Linked DNA regions of Homo sapiens: regions 1 and 3 are each linked to region 2. The links come from fine-mapping of genetic effects on gene expression. A gene starts in region 2. Each other region holds a variant in brackets. All regions are shown on one strand. Distances are between the middles of the regions.

Region 1 (4,226 bases), 67 kb after region 2:
GTCGGTGGCAGTGTTAAAAATCTTACTTTTAAAAACTGCATATCCCTAAATAAATTAACTACAATATTAACAGTGCAGAAAGAAAGTTTTACTAAAAAAAAAAGATATTAATGATCCTGGGTTAATTGATCTTAAAGAATGACAGATCGTTGGATAAAAAGTTGCTCAGGAAACCAAAAACAAAGACATGTGCAAGCAGAAAAAAATAAACCTTGGCATTAGCAATGCATCCTTCAGTGGTAAAATTATAAAGAAAATCCAGGGAATAACTGCCATTAAAAAATGATGATTAATTTTGATGGGATAGGAGCTTGGGGCAGTTTCTGGGAATGCTGGCAATGCTCTATTTCTCGACCTGGAAGCAGTTTCATGGGTGATAAATTTGTGATACATTATCAATAAAATATGGAGCTATACTTCTTTCTTTTGTGGACCTTTCTATATGTGTGCTATAGTTCTCAACAAACGTTAGGGAAAATAAACAAACACAGAAGAGAGAATGTGTTGGAATGTTCCATAACGGATGAAAGACATGAATCCTCAGACTTCTTCAATCTGAAACTAACAAAACTTCTTTTTAAAAAAAGTAAATCCACACCTAGACATATGATATGCAAGACAAGAAAGAAAAGCAAATATGAACAATATTTAATTCTATTAAATCTGGAAATTCGATTCATAGGTATCATATTATCTTCTGTGCTTTTCTGAATGTTTGAAACATTTTATAATTAGCTTTTTTAATATAAAAGAACCAGTGAGATAATGTATAACCATACCCAAAATGTCTGTTTAGATAAGTCAGAATAGTGGTTACCTCAAGAAAGAGATTTTTTTTTTCCTACCAAAGAAATACAGCTACCATTTATTGAAAGCCTACTGTGTTTTTAAAACTTAATTCATTTCATTTTCTTTTTTTTTATTATACTTTAAGTTTTAGGGTACATGTGCACAAAGTGCAGGTTAGTTACATATGTATACATGTGCCATGTTGGTGTGCTGCACCCAGTAACTCGTCATTTAACATTAGGTGAATCTCCTAATGCTATCCCTCCCCCCTCCCCCCATCCCACAACAGGCCCTGGTGTGTGATGCTCCCCTTCCTGTGTCCCTGTGTTCTGCATGTTCTCACTCATAGGTGGGAATTGAACAAGGAAGAGATTTTGTAACTGATCAGAAAGTGGTAGAAAAGTACCTTCTGGAGGCTAAAAATGTTTGTGTCTTGATCTGACCAGTGGTTTCATGGGCGTACACAAAATCTAACCAGCTGTGTACCTGAGATACACTTTACATACTTTAATGCACGTATATTTAACATCCATGGAAAAGTTTAAAGACGCTTAAGAGCTGTCAACATTAAATAATGAGATTCAGAAAATATGATTAAGTATGGAGTTTATTTCAGCACAAAGCTGGAAGATGGCTGCCCAGAAGACACTGACTTCAAACGAATGAAGTCAGAGTTCCAAAGTGGAAAAGTTAAGGTTTTACTGATATAGGCAGAGTCAGAGAGATGTTAGCAGAATTACTGCAATTTCCATACAAGAGCAGTACACACATTACAGCAATTTGATTCGCTACAGATTGCTATTAATACGTTCCAAGGAAGACTATTACTCCGTGAGGAAGGGCAGTTATCTGAGATGGTTTCATCTCTGGCACCATTTGGTCTTAATTATTTACAGGAAAAAGAAAAAGTCGGACATGGTGGCTCACACCTGTAATCCCAGCACTTCGGGAGGCCAAGGCGGGTGGATCACCTGAGGTTGGGAATTCGAGACCAGCCTGACCAACATGGAGAAACCCCATCTCTACTAAAAATACAAAATTAGCTGGGCGTGGTGGCATATGCCTGCAATCCCAGCTACTTGGGAGGCAAGAGAATCACTTGAACCCAGGAGGCGGAGGTTGCGGTGAGCCGAGATTGTGCCATTGCACTCCAGCCTGGGCAACAAGAGTGAAACTCCATCTCAAAAACAAACAAACAAAAAGGCAGAAGTTGCAGCTGCCTGCTGCATGACTCAGACTGCATAGCCACATTCCTCTCAAGGCTCAGAATAACGGAATGTTCCAACAGCCTTAAGTTTGAATTATTTTAAGTTTGAAGTACTTAATTTTACAAAGGGTCTGGCACAGG[A/G]TTGACATTAATATGATACATGCATGCTTTGGCCCTGTAGAAGTTAGAAGGACTTTTCCTTGAAATAAACGAAGACCCTCTGCAGCCTGAGTAAAGAGGGAGTTTATACAAGGAGAGGACACAAGGATAACCTGGAGAACCCATAGGTAGGAAGCACCTGGGCCTGAAGACATAAATAGCTGGAGGAGGAATGAAGCCCCCTGGACTCTCCCTGCACCCCTCCTCTGTGCTCCTCTCTGTCCGTCCTAATTTTTCTCTCTCACAGATGCCTGGTTTCTCTGCTCCCCAGACCCCAAGACAGAACACAGGTCTCTCTCACTGCTGGGTTGAATTCTGCTTTTTTAAAGAGATGGCCAGAGCAAGGATAGGATGTCTTCCAAATTCCCAGGAAAACAGCCTACCTTTAGTGCCCAACCTTGAGCTAAGCACACTGACCAGGGCAGTGGACACCATGGGAAGCCCCATGACCGGTACAGGTTGAATCAGGGGCTCATCCACTGTGGCCAAGACGATCCAACAGGTGCTCTCTACGACCTGGCAATGGCCTACGTGGGTCAGGCAATGACTTGACAGCCACTCCTTAAGTCTGGACAGTGTTTTCTACCTTACGAGACACTTTCACACTCATGATTACTTTTCCGCCTTTGTATCTTCTTGGGATTTTGATGTGAGGGCTAACTTACAGATGAGAAGATGGGTTCCTGGAAGACAAGTGACCTACTCAGGATCACGCAGTGAGTGCAGCCCAGCCGGGGCTCAGCTCCAGGTGTGCATCTTGATATGGCATTTGGGACTGGGCACCCCTGCCTGCTCCCCGCTACTACACTCCTGGAGCTGGAGTGGTTTATGGCAGAGCCAGAGGCCTGAATGGTGTGTGTCACATGCAGCCTCCACGCTCCTGTGGCCGAGGCTTTTACAAAGTACACTGCAAACCCCTTTGCCATTAAAGCAATTACCACTTCAAGGACAACCACCCTTCAGGCCTTTGGCTAGACACGGGGCCTGAATGCCCAGTCCCATGAAAATGAAAAACCCAAGTGTATGTGGAATGGCAAAGAGCAAGCAGGCCCAGGGTCACGGTCTATGAGCACCAGCCTCTTCCTGACTGTCTGCCCCTCCCCACCCTAAAAAGACGCCCGGCACTCTGGGATGCTTCTCTTTCTTTGTTTTGTTTTGTTTTGTTTTGTTTGAGACGGAGTTTCACTCTTGTTGCCCAGGCTGGAGTGCAATGGCGCAATCTCGGCTCACTGCAACCTCCGCCTCCCAGGTTCAAGCGATTCTCCTGCCTCAGCCTCCCGAGTAGCTGGGATTACAGGCATGCACCACCACGCCCAGCTAATTTTGTGTATTTTTAGTAGAGACAGGGTTTCTCTATGTTGGTCAAGCTGGTCTCAAACTCCCGACCTCAGGTGATCCACCCGCCTCAGCCTCCCAAAGTGCTGGGATTACAGGCGTGAGCCACCATGCCCAGCCTTGGGATGCTTCTTAATAGCATATCCCAGGTTACAGGAGCACGCTGGTGCCCATTTGTTCACAGGATTGGTCCTCATGGCCACTATGGGAGAAGATGGATGGGAACAGGAACCCGTGGCTCCTAAGGGTTTTCTGGCCCAGCTGGGATTCTAACCCGAGTCTCCTGATCTCGAGCCCCATGCTCCACCCACAGCCCTCTGCTGCTCCCTGCACCCATGGGACAATCAGAGAGGACAGGACAAAACTACATGACAAGTGAGTGACTGAGATCCCAAGAGCCATGAGAGAATTACCAGGCCATCTTCATGCTCTGTAGAAAAAACTGAGACCTTTCAGGAAATCATAAATACCCCTCAGTTACTATTTTCTCCACTGTACTCCATCCTAAAATGTGAGGCCACAATCTTTTCTGCTTTTAAAAGAAGCTCACAGCGGTCGGGTGTGGTGGCTCATGCCTGTAATCCCAACACTTTGGGAGGCTGAGGCAGGAGAATCACTTGAACCTGGGAGGAAGAGGTTGCAGTGAGCCAAGATTGCACCATTGCACTCCAGCCTGCTGGGTGACAGAGCGAGACTCCGTCTAAAAAAAAAAAAAAAAAAAAAAAAGAAGAAGCTC
Region 2 (4,226 bases):
TGAGAAACACCACTTCCCTAGAGGCCCTGCTCGGAGGGGTTCCATCAGGGCCTGGAGGCTCTGGATTCAGAGGCTCTGAGTCGCCTGCTCAGGCTGATGCCATAAGGAACCAGCTCTGTGACTCATTCCCCAGTGCTCTGGCCAAACTGATCAGGTTGGAGGCTCAAGCTTCAGCAGCAGACCCACTAGTGGCACTGAATATCCACTTCTGCTCGGTTAGGAAGACAGGAGGAAGAGACAGGAGTCTGGCCTTCTGCCTTATCCCAGCTTCTCTTCACTTCCAACCAGACATGCCACAGGCCACAGGGCAGTACCCCATAGGGCACAATGCCCACTGAAGAGAGGGATCCCCTCACCCCAGAAGAAGGCATTTTTACAGAGGAGCTGTGGAAATGGCCCTGCTGAGGCCTGGAGGATGCAGCCACAGGTGAGAGCCTTCTGGCGGAGAAGATGAGGCAGTCAGGCTCAGCCACCAGCCCAACCACCGCCAAGCCTCCTTCAGATCCCATGCCTGGGAGAGCTCCTGCTCTTCCTCCTAGAAACCCTGAGCTCTGGCAGCCGGTTGAGGCCCCTTCCCGGAGGATCTCCTGAGGGCCAATCTAAGTGTGTGGGGGTGGGGGCATGATTGAGAGAGACAAACCTCATTCTCCCATAGCCCAAGGAAACCTCCCCTAGCTCTCTCCCCAGCACCTGCAGCCACCAGGAGTGGGTGATTGCAAACAGCGCAGGGCAAGCCAGCTTTATATCTCCTGTAACTTTCACTCCCCACCACCCTCACTTTCTGTGCCTGACAACCTAGGCAAATCAGAGGAAAAAAGAAAGGCCCCCACTCCTGATGCCAAAGTGGGATAAACCAAGTGCCTCCATAAACCTAAGCATGCTGTTCCAGCAACAAGAGGGATGCGGGTATCTCATGTTAGAAAAGTACAGCGGAGTCCTGCATCTGTCCATCTTGGGAGCTGCAGGGGCAGGGCCAGTGTGGGGAGCAGCTGGATCCCAGTGCAGGGCTATGAGGCTAGAACTCCTATATGAGCCTTCCCACTGCTCAGCGGAAGGAAGAGCGGTCCCCTTCCCCACCCGCATTCCCGATCAGCAGAGCAGGCATCATCCCAGGCGCACAAATGCTCAGGAAAACCACCAGCGAGGTTACCCGGAGGCAGGGGACCCAGCCAGGTACGTACGCTCCTGAGTAGCCAAGAAAAACGCAATTTAGCAACCTTCAGTCGTGAGTCTCCGTCCACACCTACGAAGACGCAAAGCTCTACACTAGGTAATTTTCTGGACAAAATACATACGTTTTGCTTTTGCCTCTGCCTCTGTTCAAGTTCACCAAGAGACGGAGCAAACCCTCCGCTGACCGGAAGCCTCTCTTGGTAGCGGAACGAGAGGGAGCTGCTTCTGGGTAAACGTCGCCGCCTAGGAGGGAAGCTGTGCGCACCCCACACCCTGCCCTCGCCCCCTCCCCGGGACCAACCGCAGCGCCCTCCCGGGTGACGGACGGGCTCTCAGGACTCCGGAGGGGGACGCGGCTCGTGCGGCGCCTCGCGCACCCCCACCCCATCCCGGCCGCGCCGAGCGCCGCCCCCGCCCCCCCACAACCCCTGCACGCACCCGCTCACTCTCCCCTGCCCCGGCCGAGCCGCCCCGGGCCCCCGGGAAGGTGCCCCCGGCAAGCCCGCCCTGCAGCCGGAGCAGGTGCAGCCCCGCCGCGCTCCCAACCGCGTCTGCACAAACTTGTTTGCCCGCGGCAAGGGGAACACCCTGCTCGCAGCCCGCGCGGGGGTCCGGCTGGAGCGCCGAGAGACAGGACTCACCCCGCGATCGCGGCCGGCTGGGGCGCCCGCACCCGCGCCCATGGCCCGCCTTCCCCGGGCGCCGAGCCCGCAGCCCCCCGCAGTGCCCGGAGCCCAGAAGCCCCGGCGCCCGCACGTCTCCGGCCGCCCGCGGCAAGCGGACCCACGCGCCCGGGCACAGGGCGCCGCCGCCTGGCTCCCCGGGGCTGCTGGCGTCCGGGCTGAACGGCGGGGCGGGCGGGCGGGCGCGGAGCCGGGGCGGGCAGCGGGCGGGCGAGCGGGCGCCGGGCTCTGCACATGCTCACTCGCGCGGCCCGGGGACAGCGGCCGGCCGCCGCCGGGTCCTAGAGGCGCCGGTGCGCACCTCCCGCCGCCCGGGGGAGGGGTCGCGGCTCCGCCGGAGGGGGCCCACGCCCTGCCCCGGCCCGCGAGAACACGCGCGCGGGGCGGGCCACACGCGCCACTGCCGAGCAGAGACGCCGCCACCCACTCTGATACACACACACACACACACACACACCAGTCACCCAGAGCCACAGCCTTTCACCGGGGCCCCACGGGCTCTAACACACGCACCATGACGCTCACACCCAGACACAGACCCACAAACACACGGGGCACTGCCGCGCAGAGGAGAGCACGCCGCCACTCTCCCATGCAGACTCACAGCGACAGCCGCACACTGCCTGACACACACATCCCGAATCACTGCTTCCCAGAGACACCGACACCCACACTCACACACACACTCTCTGGGCTCTGCCCCACTCACCCAGAAGCAGACTGGGCCACTGTGACAGGCACGCACACGTACACACACAGCCACACAGTTTAGAGTGCACTCTAATACACACACACACCACACACGCACGCACACACACACACACACACACACACACCGGATCACCGTCCCATGCAGAGCTAGAGACAGACGGTCACAGCTTCACACACATTCACACTCAGAAACAAGCACCTGCTGGAACACAGACACTCTCACACAATCTGAGACAGACCTACACAGAATTGCAGCCCTACAAATACCCTGACACCAGCTCCCGCGTCTACACACTCGGGGGTCGGCCGCCGGCTTATCATACTGCTCCACACCGCACACAGTGACAAACCCACGCCTTGACATAGTTGCCCACAGAAGCAATGTCACACACTGGTGTCTACTAACAGACACACTCTCAGAGGGGCATACTGGGCATTGACCCACAGGCTCTCTCTCTCTCTCTCTCTCTCACACACACACACACACACACACACACACACACACACACGCACCGAGGTGGAAAGAGGCTGAACAGTCACACAAGTCTATACACAATCCCCCTCTTTAAATAAAGGCTGGATCCAAACCTAAAGATTTTTCCCAGGGAGGAGCCCCACCCTGTTCCCCCAAAGCCGCCAAGTCACAGCATCTGCCCTGCTCTGCCATGTGCACCGGTGGACCCTGTCCTCACCCGGAGCTGGCTGCTAAGATGCTCCCAGAAGCTGAGGACAGCAGAGGCAGCAGGAGCAGGTGGTGGTGCCTCTTACTCCGTCTTCCTAAAAGGGAGTTTCATGCCTCCGACTCCCGCTAGGGGCAGAGCTGCTTGGCCTGGCTCCGAGGAGCTGGCTTGCAACAGGTGCAGGTGGCAGGGAAAGCGTTTGCCTGGGGACCAGTCACAGTCCCTCCTTACGCGGGTCAGTCAGGTGGCGCCCAGAGCGGGAAGAGACTCGCTGCAGTTTGCATAGCTATGTCTGGCCAAGTGCAGAATTAGAACAGAGTCTGCACCATCCGCATGAAGGCAGAATGCTCTGAAGGTCTTGGGGCACCTGGATTTAATATCCTTAAGCCCAGGAAGAGGATACAGTAAGTGAGAGACGAATTCTGTGCTGCCTCAGAGTCCCAACCTTGCAGAAAAGCCCCCTTCACATATATATCCTTTACAGAATGTGAATGTGTGTGTCGTTACGATTTATAACAGCAACCCACTGTGCAGTCTCGCAATGCTGTTTGGTTTGCAAAGCCCTCTCCATGACCAGCTACATAATTTGAAGGGCCTAAAATAAAAATGGAGCCCCCTTTTAAAACACTATCAAGAATTTCGAGAGATAAAAGGAGGATATTAAACCAGTACGGGTCCCTTCTGAGCACAGAATTCAGAGCCTTTCACAGATCTCATACCCATGAAGCCAGCCCTGGCCCTCTCGTACCCATTGTCCCACTTAAAACTGATAAGTCTATAGATGCCTTCATGTGCCCATTTGACAGATGAGGCTTTCAGGTGGGTGATCACAAAAGGCTCACAGCCAGTTGAGCCCAGGGGAATTCAAGCCCAGCTCCTCTGGGAAGCCAGACATTTCCCGGCAGCTGCTATTCAGAAGTGTCCATCTGCAGCAGCAGACACTTGGTACAGAATAATCAAGCAGAAGAGTTGATGTGGC
Region 3 (4,226 bases), 23 kb after region 2:
CTGGAATCTATGAATTTGCAGAACAATGCCCGAATTCAGCAACAAAGGGCAGGGGAGTTGTATCAATTATTGAGTTCATCATTGTATTCCTTGTTCCTAGCGAAGTGCCTGAGACCTAGCAGGAACTTGGTGATGTATTTATCAAGTGAACGAACGTGTGAATGAATTAGTGAATGAATGAATCGGTGTCTAGTGTAGAGAAGGAGGGAGGTGAGAGTCCTGCTGCCCAGGTATGGTCAGAGATAACCTGAGAGTTTGATGCACATGCTAAGAGCAAGTACAGAGGCAGCGAGCATTAGACAGAAGATTTCTGTAAATGTTGAAGGAACCGGAAAAGGTGTGACACTCTGTGTTCAAATGTGTCTTTAAACATCTGCCAGGCTGTCAAGGGGAGGAGGAAGCAGACATATTCTGGGGTCCCCAAGGAACCAGCGTTGGAAGCTTCAGTAAGGCAGATCTGGGCACAATGTAGACATGAAGATCTGTACGCTTTGTGCACCAGCCACATGTGAAGCATTCTGCAAGTTGTTTTGTTGTTGTTGTTTTTTTTGAGATGGAGTCTCGCTCTGTGGCCCAGGCTGGAGTGCAGTGATGCAATCTCAGCTCACTGCAAGCTCTGCCTTCCGGGTTCACGCCATTCTCCTGCCTCAGTCTCCTGAGTAGCTGGGACTACAGGTGCCCACCACCACGCCTGGCTAATTTTTTGTATTTTCAGTAGAGACGGGATTTCACCGTGTTAGCCAGGATGGTCTCGATCTCCTGTCCTTGTGATCCACCCGCCTCGGCCTCCCATAGTGCTGGGATTACAGGTGTGAGCCACCACACCCGGCCTGCATTCTGCAAGTTTTTTTTTAACATACATTCAGTTATACATCACACCTCCCTGAACCAGGCAGGACTTCCCCACACTTTATAGACAAAAGATGATGTGGCTTGCTCAGAGTCACAGAACAGGACAAGCCAGGACCCAGGGCCAGCTGACTTCATGGCCTATAGTTCAGAGCTGACCAAAAAAAGTCATAGGCTTCCTTGTAAGATCGTGAGTTCCGCATCACTGAGCTGGTCAAGTAGAGGCTTGGTTGATCACTTAACTAAGAGAAAACACAAGATGTAACTGAAAGGACGGACTGAACTGGAGTCTCGCTAGTTTCCTGACTATGGGTTCGCCCAGTCTTTTATTGGGCCCAACACAGCATCACAATGACTTTTGAAACTTTGGTCTAGTGAACTTACTTTAAGCAAGATCTATCTGTCCTCTAAGACCATACCTGACTTCAAGGGCAGGCATTGCAAATAGATTTTGTTTTATGTTTCAATTTGGTTCCATTGTTAGTGGCTGTCTGAAGTGCTGCCTTAAAAATAATTCTGAAGCTCTGTTTAGCCTTCATGGGAAAGTGTGCTTTGATTGATTAGTGATGTCTGTCACAGGTGCGGGGTAGTAGCTAGCAGATATTTGTTCTGTGTTTGCCATCCTTGCTCCAGGACATGCATTTTAACTCTGGAGAGCCCCATTGGATAATAGTGGTAAAGCCACAGTCATCTAAGAAAATACCAAAGTACATTGTCTTAGAGCCAGAAAGGGGATTAATTTTCAACATGGAGATTTGCAGCAGTCCACATTCCAATTCCTAAACATGACTCAACTCCCTTCTTTGTGGACTTGTTCTTTAATTAGGAATCTCTGCAAACACTTTGAAGCTGAGCCGTTTCCCAGCCATCCCAGCCCAGTGCCTGTCCCTGCTAGCTCCCCAGTCGCCCCAACCCACAGTCTCCTCAGAGCACCAGACTGGATTTTGATCAAGCAAATTGAAATGTATGTTTCCCACTGTGAAGTAAACAGCCATCCCCCTACCACATCTTTATCCCTGAAGCCAATTAGTGGCATGGCTGCCTTCCCAAGCAGAACAGGAGAGCATCTCTGTTCATCTCTTCTTTGGATGTTTTAGGGATGCTGTAGGCC[C/T]GGATCATAGCCTGTCTAGGCCTCCAGAAAATCTGGGATCCTTCCCTGGGCAAGTGACTTCAGGAGATTTCTTGGACAGCCCTGCCTTTTCAGTTTGCAGACACCTTCCCACAGGTGCCTCCGTGGTTAAGAGTGTAGGGTTTGGGCTAGGTGCAGTGGCTCACACCTGTAATCCCAGCATTTTGGGAGGCCCAGGAGGATGGATCACTTGAGGTCAGGGGTTTGAGACCAGCCTGGCCAACATGGTGAAACCCCATCTCTACTAAAAATACAAAAATTAGCCAGGCGTGGTGGTGCACACCTGTAATCCCATCTACTTGGGAGGCTGAGGCAGGTAAATCGCTTGAACCCAGGAGGCAGAGGTTGCAGTGAGTCGCGATCAGGCCACTGCACTTCAGCCTGGGTGACAGAGCAAGACCCCATCTCAAAAAAAGAATAAAAAGGAGTGTGGGGTTTGGAGCCTGATCAACTTGGGTTCAAATCTTGATTCTTCCATATACTTGTCCTGTTACTTTGGGGAAGTCATTTAGCCTGTCTGAGCTTTACTTTCCTCATTTCTAAAAGGGGAAGAAGAATATTCTAAACCTCATGATGCTTTATTCATTCCACCATCACTCATGCATATCCAGTATGCACATCTGCTCCATGCCACTGCCACAGTTTGCATTCAAGCCTTATCTGATATTCTTCTCTGTCTAAGGTTTGTGCCTTGTTAGGCATAACTTAAATTTTTTTAAGCCAGAGACATGGCTGTTTGAATTTGTCAGTGTCTTCTCTGCCTATGTAGGGACATTAAGTCATCTTGAAGCCGATTTTTTTTTCTTTCCTGGAAAAAGTCTCTGAAAGGAGCCCCCTTAGTAATGGAATAAGGGACACCAAGGAGCTCACTCTCCCAGAAGAAAGGAACCAAGGGACCTTTTCTGAGGTTTGATCATGGCTGCACCTCCCAGTATTCCAGAGCTGGTGACTGGGAGAAAATGTGGCAAAGTAGGGGTCTGTTGGGGGAAAAAAAAGGCCTCAAGAGCCAAGCTTCTTTCTCACATCTGAGGTTCAGCGATGCAGTCTGAGATGGGCCTGACTCAGGTCTGCTGGAAGCCCCAGGAGAACATACCTTGAGCTGTGCTCAACCCCCAAGTCTGGGTTGTGGTTTTGGTCTGGCCCAGAGGTGGCTCTGGCTGGTAGCCCCTCTTCCCAGAGGATGTGCTCTGGGGAAAATGCGGGAGCCAGAGAGTGTAAACTAAGGACGTTATCCTCAGGAACTGCTGGCAGCCTGCTGAGCATGCAGATCTGATGCAGCATGCTCCTGATACAGTAGCCATTAGCCAGCCACGTGTGGCTACTTAAGACAAAAATCAAATTAATTAAAATGAAATACACTTGAAACTTGAGTTCTTCAATCCCAACTAGCCATCTTTCAAGGGCTCAACTGCCGCATGTGGTTCGTGGTTACCTTAGATGGTGCAGAATGATAGGACATTTCAATCACTGCAATAAATTCCGCTGGACAGTGCTAATCTAGAAAAGAGTTTCTCAACATTGGCACTGCTGACATTTTGGGCCTGATACATTTTTGTTCAGGGAGGCTGTCCCGTGAACGTAGAATGTTAAGCAGCATCTCTGGCCTTTACCCACTAGATGCCAGTAGCACCTCACCCCCAGTTGTGACAACCAAAATATCTCCAGGCATGGCCAAATGTCCTTAGGAGAAGAGGGGAAATTGCCCCTAGTTGAGAACCACTGGGTTAGACCCTATAGACCATCATGAGCATTGCTCAGGAGTGGCCATAAATGCAACTGGGCTTGGCTAGTTTTCTTCAAGGCCCTGGGATAGTAGCAACAGTCTGCACAGTCCAGCCAGCCCTATCAGAATGAGCCAAGCAAGGGTCTAGGGTTCTTGGACAATGGGAAGGATGGAACAGGAGGAGGGTTGGCAAGGAGGCTCTAAGGAGCACTTGGCTCAGACAGGTTACATCTGCATCCCTGCCAGGCCTCCTCCAAGGCCTGCCTTCTGGCCTCCTGTTTCCTCACTCACGATTAGCCCCACACACTGGCTACTAGAGTAATTGTTGTAACAGTAATATCCCCCTGACTGTTATTTCTCTCTTTAAGTATACCCAATGTTTCCCATTGCTCATAAGATAAAATCTAGATCCCTTGGCCTAGCACTCACGCACCTCACAGCCCAGTTCCTCTGAACTTTTTCAAGTTCGTCAGCACCTCCCTTTAGTTAGCTGCAGGCCACACCATTCCTTGCCCAAACCACACG

Alleles and levels. Positions count from the first base shown, and alleles are read on the strand shown. Sizes are in standard deviations (SD) of each study's normalised expression.
In carriers of allele A in region 1, the expression in aorta of the gene that starts at base 2,088 in region 2 tends to be lower than with G alone (small effect, 0.29 SD a copy in GTEx).
In carriers of allele C in region 3, the expression in stomach of the gene that starts at base 2,088 in region 2 tends to be lower than with T alone (small effect, 0.28 SD a copy in GTEx).

What was found. PIP is the estimated chance that this variant, and not a neighbour inherited with it, causes the effect. A credible set is the group of variants that fine-mapping cannot tell apart.
Region 1: its variant is the best candidate, but not a certain one, in a credible set for the expression of WSCD1 in aorta (GTEx, PIP 0.74).
Region 3: its variant is the best candidate, but not a certain one, in a credible set for the expression of WSCD1 in stomach (GTEx, PIP 0.59).

Annotation. Positions count from the first base shown.
Region 1 is chr17:6,001,210-6,005,435 of GRCh38, reverse strand. No RefSeq gene overlaps it. Among named protein-coding and RNA genes, the nearest start is that of WSCD1, 67 kb to the left of the region's middle. The variant A/G (reference allele first, on the strand shown) is at 2,138.
Region 2 is chr17:6,068,241-6,072,466 of GRCh38, reverse strand. WSCD1 (WSC domain containing 1) reads right to left here and starts at 2,088. Exons shown (of 9, transcript NM_015253.2): 1 at 1,815-2,088. RefSeq lists an enhancer at 2,021-2,852.
Region 3 is chr17:6,045,503-6,049,728 of GRCh38, reverse strand. No RefSeq gene overlaps it. Among named protein-coding and RNA genes, the nearest start is that of WSCD1, 23 kb to the left of the region's middle. The variant C/T (reference allele first, on the strand shown) is at 1,961.